Linked DNA regions of Homo sapiens. The gene in region 1 interacts genetically with each later gene. Each region holds a gene or a part of one and is shown on either strand. Other genes may lie near its edges.

Evidence for each region.
Region 2: changes in CDK8 (region 1) and HCRTR1 together harm fitness less than expected from each alone (positive genetic interaction), as found in Homo sapiens cells (one large-scale study listed by BioGRID).

Annotation. Positions count from the first base shown.
Region 1 is NC_000013.11:26,393,025-26,398,214, reverse strand, and holds part of CDK8 (cyclin-dependent kinase 8), read right to left. Parts: intron 4,849-5,190; coding exon 4,705-4,848; intron 1,931-4,704; coding exon 1,861-1,930; intron 1,063-1,860; coding exon 990-1,062; intron 1-989.
Region 2 is NC_000001.11:31,623,016-31,628,205, forward strand, and holds the end of HCRTR1 (orexin/Hypocretin receptor type 1), read left to right. Parts: intron 1-507; coding exon 508-734; intron 735-1,981; coding exon 1,982-2,103; intron 2,104-3,774; coding exon 3,775-3,965; 3' UTR 3,966-4,598; downstream 4,599-5,190. UniProt on the Homo sapiens protein: Moderately selective excitatory receptor for orexin-A and, with a lower affinity, for orexin-B neuropeptide. Triggers an increase in cytoplasmic Ca(2+) levels in response to orexin-A binding.

The sequences.
Region 1 (5,190 bases):
TATATTGTGTGGTAATATGACAGGTTAAGAATGACTTTTTAAATTGCTGTTAAGATATGAAATACATGATATAAAATGTGAACTGATATAATAGTAAGTAGAAAATACAGAAGGAGAAGCAGTAGAAAGCGAAGAAAAAGGAGAAACAAAGGAAGAACAGAAGAAATGTTTGCCAAATGGCCTGGTTGCAATAAAGGAAAGGTTAACCTCTTCAAGGTGAAAGAATTCTCATTTAAGAACTTAGGAATAAGGATTAAAAGAATTTCAAGCCAAGCAAAATACAACCTGCTTCCCCAAACTCCCCTTCTATGTGTTATAAACCTTTTTCTAAAACAAAAAACATTATTAATTATTACGCTGTAACAATGGAAATTTTATTGTAAACAAAGTTGGTAATGGCTGTATATAATTTCATCACAAATTACCTTGTTAGTGCACGGATTCAATTAGATTCTAGGTTAAATCATTTTTCCATTACACACTGATAAATATGGCATCTATCACATTCTTCCAGAAAAATCAAATAGCACATATAATCGCTGAATGACTGTTAACATTTAAGGTTATAAGAGGTATTTTGGAAATTAAGAACTTTGTAAACAGTCTTTCAAAGAGCTGAAATACAAAACAATCTATTTATCAATGGTGAGAAGTACTTTCTTCTTGATACTTCTCTGGAACTTTTAAAATCTTAAACAGACGAAAAACAATACATGTAATTTTATAAATGTTTTGACAGATTTGTTACCATCGCTATCTTTAGAAAATCTAATGTGACCAAACATTAGTCTGTCAAACCATGATATGAGTCTGGAAGAGCAAATAGTTTATTGTCTTTATTGGTATGCACTAACAAGATCTCTGCATTTACCATGAAAGCACTCTGAGTGCTAGCTAAGTAACCACATAAATTGATCCAAAAAAGCCTCAGTTGGGCTAGTCAATTAAGGAAAAAATGCATTTCATTAATACTGTTAACCAATGCTTACCAAGTGGAATGCTTTACTATCTGGTTTAACTTTATGTTTTTCCATATACTTGATAAGGCTGCAGTTGGTATACCTGAAAGAGAAATACTATGAAATAGCTATATTAGACTTGAGGTTAATTGTACATTGGCTAAAGTCCTTCTGATGAGAATTATTTTGATCATAACCGATATAAAATATATATTGAAAACACTATGAGCATAAAATGAGTAGAATTAAATCAGTTTTCTATTTCATTCAATATCCACAATGGTCACTTTTGAAAGGATACCGATGATTAAATGTAAGACAATTTCATGAATAACAGACACTAAACAGCTTTTTTTTTCACATGAATTATATTTTAACAATTATTTTAAATAACATCTGGGTCAAAAGTTTAATTCAGCCTTACCAATAAGTGTAAAATACTTTTGTCATAGGTATACAAACTAAACTCTCCCAATCCCTGGCTTTGCATTGTAAACAGGTGAAATATCCATTCTTCTCTGTTAAAACCTGCTTAAAATTACTGTAACCTAGATTGGTGAGCAAGTGGCTATTACCAAAGTTTATTTATTTAGATTCTTATTTATTCAGCTGTGATACTTCTCACTAATGTCTAGCTTCCAAAAAGTAGTCAATATGGAAAGACATGAATTTGTTTTATATCCAAATCAGCTGCTAATATTAGTCACTTTTGTATATAATCATTTAAGCATCTTAAGAAATAAAGACTGTCATCATGAAAAATATTTATTAGAGTAAATAAGTAAAATTATTTATTAGAGTAATCTTATATTGAGTATTTTATTATGTTGAATATTCAGTCTTACACTGAGTATTCTGGTAAAGCAAAAATCAACAAGGAGTCTCTTTTTTTCCAACTTACGTATTTCTTCTGAAATCTTTCATTAATGTTGAATGTTCAGGCATCTTTTTTATATCTTCCCAATCTTTATCTGTGAAATACATTGATAAATTTTTATGTTGCCTAAGTTCCTATTCTTGAGAATTTTTAAAAAGGTTATTACCACGTTCATTACATTTCCTATCCGTTCAACCTCCACACAAAAAAGCTGTCTTCAAATAAATGTTCAGCAACAGTAAATATCTTGAAGTGTAAACATAATTCCTTATCCCTTATATAACTTTATATATCTGTTTATATTTTAAATTTTAAACTGCAAACTTTCTGTATGTTTTACTATAAGCTGCCTCAATTTCTGTCACTAGAGAAGAATAAGTTATACATATTTCTATTTATCTTATTAAATGTCCTCTTTCTATTAGTAAAACTGCTTATTTCCCCTTTTCTACCAAATTTCTTGGTTAAGTCAGCAATCAATTTCTTCAATGAGAAATCTAAGATCTTCCCCTCAGTGGCTTTAAACTATACTTCTTTTTATGATACAGCCCTCCTTTCACCTTGTTAAATATATTTCTTTACATAAGCAATCAATGGAAGAAGGGGTAATAACTATTTGCACAATAGGGTAGGATATAATTAGTATATTAATAAGTGGGCTGGTACCTTGGCTAGTCTGGTTAACATTACCCAAAACAACCCCAGCTCCTAAATACGTTAAGTACAAAACGTTTCAGCTACTTTTGCTGGCATCCAAGTTGCTCAAACAATACATGCTACATAATGTGTTCTCTCCAATATCTGCCAATGGGTTTTCCTGAGAGTCTACTAGGTGCAAAGGACTGTCACAGGCAGCTTAACAGCACCTTTAGCTCTTTTTTTTTTTTTTTTGAGACGGAGTTTCGCTCTTGTTAACAGCCCAGGCCGGAGTGCAATGGTGCGATCTCGGCTCACCCCAACCTCTGCCTCCCAGGTTCAAGTGATTCCCCTGCCTCAGCCTCCAGAGTAGCTGGGATTACAGGCATGTAATCCCATGCCTGTAATACATTACAGGCATGTAGCCACCATGCCCAGCTAATTTTGTATTTTTGGTAGAGACGGGGTTTCTCCATGTTGTTCAGGCTGGTCTCAAACTCCCAACCTCAGGTGATCCGCCCACCGCGGCCTCGCAAAACCTTTAGCTTTTAAATGGCCTTTAGAGGCTTGCTTTTCTTTGAACTTACTTGTAAAAATATTTGGTAACTATCCTCCAAAGACATCACATATTGTAAACTAAACATACACTACACTCCTAAATGGAATTTTCTCCTTAACTATTTTCCTTGCTCCAATTTCTGTGTTTTATCAATTTCTCATGCTAGAAATTTTAAGATAATCTTTAGTTTTCCCTTGCTTATACACTTCCTATAAAACATTTCCATCTGCCCTTTTTTCTCCATCCTTATCTTCACTCTACTTTCTGTCTGCAGCACTGCTACAGCTGGTTTCTGATTTCAGTTAGCTCTTTTTAACAGATTTTTACCTACCACCATCTTACTAAATCTTTCTAAAATGCAACATAAAGCATGTCTCTAGTACTCAAGAACTGATGGATTCTCATTCTTTAGCTATCAAATCTAACCTCTGCTGCCTGCTTTCCAAGCTTCCTTATAAACCACCCTAACCTCTGAACCACATATTAAGAGTCACTGATAGACATCTTCACCACATCTACTCCCTCACAGAAGCTATGCCTTTCCCGTGGGCTCAGAAATGGTGGACACATTCAGAAGCAGGAAGAAAACAGAATTCTTCTGTCTCTACTCAAAACCATACCTACTTTTTAAACATTCTACATATAGCAGTACAATGCAAACTCCAAGGGGGCAAAAATCATGTCTGTTACATCATCAATAACTTTTTACTTAAGACAGTGCCTGGCACATGGCAGGTACTCAATAAATATTTACTGAATAAATAAAATTCCCATCACAACAGAAGTCTTCTCCACACTGGTGACCAATTTTGGAGAAAGGCAGTATCTGTGTAGTTATTCTGCATTTACTGATAATTAACACCCTTACAAGGGAATGTAGAATTAAAAGTCCCAGGTATTATCTCTATTAGTCTTGAGTTTATAGTGACCTGAGAAATATTCCTAATAAGAAACACTTTCTACTAAGTACTTGACTAGCCAAAATTTAGGTGTTTTAAACAAATTCTCATTATTCTGGACCTCTGAGCAGTTTTTGGTGATTACCGTTCTGTAATATAACTAGGGATTGAGATACAGTTGGAGAGATCTAATACCAGGGATAGGATACATGTAAACCATCTCTCTGTTGCAAAACAGCAGGCTAACTCACCATAGGGTACTATGACTCTCACCCACATTGTGACTGTTCTAAGAGAAGACTTAAATGCTATTATTCAATATAATGTGATTCTGTATAGTGCCCTAAATAGAAATAAGGTTCAAAATTTATATTTGAATGCCAAATAGTGGCAGTATTATATGTGCTGCCAGAAAAAAATTCCTACTACTGAATTCATTTATAGTTTCTACTGGTAAGAGCTAAAGGTACCTTTTTAATACAGATATTGAACATATTTTATCATTTCAAATACCAAATAACAAAACAAAAAAGTAAAACAAGATGAAACAAAAATACAGTCCTGAAATTCAGGAAACCCATAAATATTTCCATGCCAATATGTAAACTCTACAAATTTTGCTGTTTCTACGGATCTTTGATAAATGCAAGTCAAAAAACAAAGACTCAAGTAAAAGTAGCTTCCATCAGCTAAAAATATATACCTCTCCAACGAAGACATCTAAGTTCAAACAACAGTGATTTAAAAACAAAAACAAAAACGAATAATGTGTACCTGCAGGAAATCCCATTACATTGAATATTCTGTCCAGCTGGTCATGGTGATAAGGATTACTAGTTTTGATGTCCTCTTGTCGACAGTGAAATATTGGTTCTGACGTTAGTAGTTCTGCAAATATACACCCTATAGCCCAAATATCTTTAAAACAAAAAGAAAAAAAAAAAGAAAGAAAAATAGGCAAGGAAAAAAGAAAAAGAAAGGTGCAAAATAAAGTGGTTCTTTCCAAAAGAAAATGCAATTTTATTTTCTTGGGGAGTGTTTTTTTCTTTCTTTCCCTAATAACTCATATTAATTCCTAAGCAATTATAATTACTAAATACCATGAAACATTATTATAAGTATATATTCCCATGCCCTCCACCCCGATTTTTCATTCTGTATACCTCCATACCACCCAAATGGTTTCACTCTAAGCCCAATTAAATGTACTGGCTGGATTTTGGTGAGTTTTCAATGTCCAGGTGATACCTTTTCTGTGAA
Region 2 (5,190 bases), on another chromosome or scaffold:
TCACAAAGAGCTAATGGAAAATGAAAGTCTAGGCTGGGCGCAGTGGCTCACACCTGTATTCCCAGCACTTTGGGAGGCTGAGGCAGGCGGATCACCTAAGGTCAGGAGTTCAAGACCAGCCTGGCCAACGTGGTGAAACCCCATCTCTACTAAAAATACAAAACTTAGCCCGGTGTGGTGGCGCACACCTGTAATCCCAGCTACTCGGGAGGCGAGATTGAAGAGAGCCAAGATTGCACCATTGCACTCCAGCTTAGGTGACAAGAGTGAAATGCCATCTCAAAAAAAAAAAAAAAAGAAAAGAAAAGAAAATGAAAGTCTATCGTTCACTCTCAAGTCCAGAGTGTTAGTCTATCATAAACATTAGATTCCTTCCTCTTGCAAGGGTTTTATCCTTTTGCCCATCTCCACCCTGCCCGGGGTCCAGCCTGGAGTAGGCCCCACAAAAGGCAACCACCCTCCCAAGGTGCTGTACCCACCACTGCTGTCTCTATGTGTGCTGGACAGATCCCCGGCACCACCTCAGCACTGGTGCGGAACTGGAAGCGCCCCTCAGACCAGCTGGGGGACCTGGAGCAGGGCCTGAGTGGAGAGCCCCAGCCCCGGGCCCGCGCCTTCCTGGCTGAAGTGAAGCAGATGCGTGCACGGAGGAAGACAGCCAAGATGCTGATGGTGGTGCTGCTGGTCTTCGCCCTCTGCTACCTGCCCATCAGCGTCCTCAATGTCCTTAAGAGGTGAGAGCACGGGGTATGGTTGGGGTGGGGAGAAGTTTGAGGTTGGGGAAGGAGCTCTCCTTGCTTGGGAGAAAGACCTGGCTCCACCCCTTCTCCACTATGTGATCTTGGGCAGGCCATTTCTCTTCTCTGAGCCTCCATCTCCTAGGGCTATCGTGAAAATTCACGCATTCATTCACTTAATCATCACATTTTAGGGGGCTGGAAATACAATGAACAAGTGCATAAGACAGACAAAGTCCCTGCCTTCATGGAGGCTGCATTCTAGCAGGAGAGAAGGGAAGTAAATAGAAGAATCAATGTATATTATAATGTCAGGCAGTGATAACTGCTGGGAAGAAAAATAAAATAGGACAGAGAGTGACAATGATAAGGGTTGGTGGGTTTTTGCTTTTGCTTTAGATACAATGGTTTAAAAAAAGCAGGGGGCCGGGTGCAGTGGCTCACATCTGTAATCCCAACACGTTGGGAGGCCAAGGAGGGAGGATCGCTTGAGGCCAGGAGTTCAAGATCAGCCCGGGCAACATAATGAGACTTCGTCTCTACTAAAATTCAAAAAATTAGCCAGCCATGGTGGCATGTGCCTGTAGTTCTAGCTACACAGACTGAGGTGGAAGAATAGCTTGAGCCCAGGAGGTTGAGGCTGCAGCGAACCATGATTGCACCACTGCACTCCAGCCTGGGTGACACAGCTGTCTCAAAAAAAAAAAAAAAAAAAAAAAGCCTTTCCAAGGAAATGACATTTGAGCAGAGACTTGAAGGAAGTGAGAGAGCTAACCATGCACGTGTCTGTAGGGACAGCCAAAGAGGGTCGCAGGGCGCTGGGGAGAGAATGCAGGCTATTGGACAGAAGACAGTTTCACTTTGAGATTGTGCTTGGCCACTTCCTGGTTGTGTGATCTTCGGCATGTCACTTTACTTCTCTGAGCCTCAGTTTCCTTAATGGAAAAATGGATGATGTCTATGATTCATCATGTTGCTGTGAGGATGGATGAGAAAGTGGATGGGAAGCCCCAGGGGATCCGATGGCCAGGAGGCTAGAGATGCCCATCACGGTGCTTGATACCCTCCATGCTTGAGAACCCCAAACCCTGGCCAAGACCTCAGGTACAGAAGGCCAGGAAACGTGGACAGAAGTGGGCAGTAGGAACTCTTGCACTTTACAGCTCAGGTTCTGTGAGCAGCACTCCCCCAGTACATGCATACGCAGCTACCCCATTTCTGACGCTCCTCCACCCTGGGCCTAGGGTGTTCGGGATGTTCCGCCAAGCCAGTGACCGCGAAGCTGTCTACGCCTGCTTCACCTTCTCCCACTGGCTGGTGTACGCCAACAGCGCTGCCAACCCCATCATCTACAACTTCCTCAGTGGTGAGCAGGCTGGGGATGCAAAATGACTGAGGGTGGCCAACAGTCCACATGACAAGTCTCCCCATCCCCAAGCCAGGGCCCAAATAAAGGATGGTGGGTGAGGATGTACCTGCTGTGGGCACAGTGATCCTGCTCTGGGAGGACCCACCCCAAGCGGCCCTGGCCTGAGTGGGAGACGGGCCACACTCCCTACAGTGGCTGGCACCCAGGATCCAGTTTTGCAGATTCTGCAGACCAGTGAGTGAGTGGAAGGGCAGGGGCTAGGCCAGCTCACCCCCAACTCCCACCCTGGGTGCAGGCACAGCAAGACCTCCAATCAGCTCAGGCAGAGGAGTCCATCCTCCCCGGAGGGAGTCAGACCTGTGGGAGGAGGGCCCTGGAGCCCCTGCCCGAGGAAGGATTGCACAGTCCAGGTGTCAGGGCTAAAGTAGGGTCACTCTGAGAGACAAGCCAGGCCCAGGGAAGGGCTTCGCCGGCTCAGCTAGACACACTGGCAGAGTGACCGGAATCTCAGGGGTTGTCCCCTCTGGAAGTCTTCCTCCCCTGCCACCCCCACTCCCACTCCAGGCCTCTCCTCTCTGCTGTCCCACAGTGCCCACCCCCTCCCTCTACCTCCCAGTCTCAGGGTGGTAATGGCTCTGAGGCTGAGCTCAGCAGAAGTCTGACTCACCAGCCCTCTGACTTTGGGAATAGACTTCTAAAGAACAGGTCCAGATGACTGTTGAAGCCTGGACAGAAATAATCTTTGAGGAACTATTAAAAGGTTAAAGAAAGGATCAGGAGTCAATAGTATAACCCTCATTGAGACTCAAGAATTACTCAACAAGGCTGGCTGCGGGTTTCCAGGTCAGAAAAGAGAATAGATGATGAGCTGTGTGGGGAGGGGAGGGCAGACAGACTTACTGACACATATGCCTTTGTTTGGCCTATGTTTACTGAGCACCTACTATGTGCTTGACCCTGTGCTGGGCACCAGAGAGGCTGGCAGCCTAATGACACATGATCAAAGGGGCTTCAGCCTGACAAAATCTGTTTCCCTGGTATACTTGGGCTGAATAATGTGGTGTGGTGGTCCCTCCTTCCCTCCTCCCCCTTGAGAAGGGCTTTGGAATTAGAATTGGGTTCAGCTTCTGGCTGGGTGGACTTGGGCAAGCCACTGTACCTCTGTGCATCTCATCTGTGAAGTGAGGATAAAGGACTCCAGCCTTTCAGGGTGCTGGGATGCTCTGGCGGACAGAGGCTGAGGCGCCCAGCACAGCGTGACTGCCAAATGCAAAAGGGCTGCTGCTGCCGTCATTTTCATCATCAAAGGGCAGAGAGGACACAAGCCTCGCAACAGATAGTGACCCCCACGTACACACCAAGGAGAGCAGAGGTGACCTGAGGCCCCCGAGCCAGACACCACGTTTTGAGTCAGCCTCCGAGCCAGAGCACAGTCAAGGAATCAGATGGCAATTGCGTCTCTCCTTGGGAACCCGCTCCAGGGCTTCTGTCCTCTCTCTCTGGCGGTGCCGAGGTTGCCTCAGGGCTCTCCCTCCCAGCTCTATCCCTCCCTCCCTCCCCGCCCCCTCATAGGCAGCTTGGCTGGAGCTGCGTGGGTGTCCCTGGGCTCAAGGCCCCTTCCTGCTGCATCTGTCTCCTTATGGCTGTGTCTTTTGTCTCCCAACCAAGGCAAATTCCGGGAGCAGTTTAAGGCTGCCTTCTCCTGCTGCCTGCCTGGCCTGGGTCCCTGCGGCTCTCTGAAGGCCCCTAGTCCCCGCTCCTCTGCCAGCCACAAGTCCTTGTCCTTGCAGAGCCGATGCTCCATCTCCAAAATCTCTGAGCATGTGGTGCTCACCAGCGTCACCACAGTGCTGCCCTGAGCGAGGGCTGCCCTGGAGGCTCCGGCTCGGGGGATCTGCCCCTACCCCTCATGGAAAGACAGCTGGATGTGGTGAAAGGCTGTGGCTTCAGTCCTGGGTTTCTGCCTGTGTGACTCTGGATAAGTCACTTCCTCTGTCTGAGCTTGTGTCCCCTAAGCAGGGTTGATGTGAGGATTAAGCATGCTGAAGCAAGTGGAAAGCTCCTTGTAAACTGTGAAGTGTTGTGGACATGATTATTGTTGTACTTCTCTCATTTGGCCATACCCCACAGTATAATCTGTCCCCATCCTCCTTCCAGAGCTTGGTCATCCTCCTAAAGACCCCTTTCCTACCCAATTACAGGCCTTCCCTGGAGTCTGCTCTAAAGGTCCCAACAGGCATTTCCATCTTGTTCCATGGCTCCCTGAAGCCCAGGGCTGCACTTGGCCAGCTGTTCTGATGCCTGTGTGAACTAATCTGGGCCCAGCCTTTCTCCAGCGGGCCACGAGCACAGCCCCACCCTAACCAGGTGCCAAGGGCACACACCACAGACCCGACCTTGTTGGCTTTGTGGTGTGATAAAACACTCTCCATGGCCACTTGGCAGAGAGGCCAGCAGCCCGAAGCAACTGTAATTAAAAGCCTGGCACTGAATGTTCCCTTTCCTTGTCATTGCACAAAATCTGTGCTGCTTAGGTTAGGAGCAGAAGAAGGTGGGGAAGCTGGGGGGAGGGAAGACAAGAAGGCACTAGAATGCTCTTATCTGCTGACCTCCCACCCCCACCACACGGGATCCCAGATGGACTCAGCCAGGCCTCGGCACACGTGGTGCTGCCTCCTCATGCGGTGCCAATCCTGTGACGCCGGGACCTCACCCCTCGACACAACTGTCTGCTCACAGGCCCAGTGGCCTGGGGAAGGTAAGGGGGGCCGGGTGGGCAGATAGCGGGTTAACAGGCTGATTTACTGTTATCTTCATCTTCTTGGAAACCAAGGCTTGCGCCTATTTTCTATGAACTCACAGGATAAAAAGAGAAAGCCACAGACTTGGCCAGACATGCTCCGTCTGCCACCGAGATTTTAAGGCTGCCAAAGGCCCTGAGCCTTGTTGCCAGAGAAGGACGTGGAGTGCAGCCTGAAGTGCTACTCTGCTGAGAGGAACAGGGACATCTGGCAGGGGCCAGCTCTGCTATGCATACCACCAGGTCTGCTTAACTTGATTAATAGAGCTGTGGGCTCCCTCTGA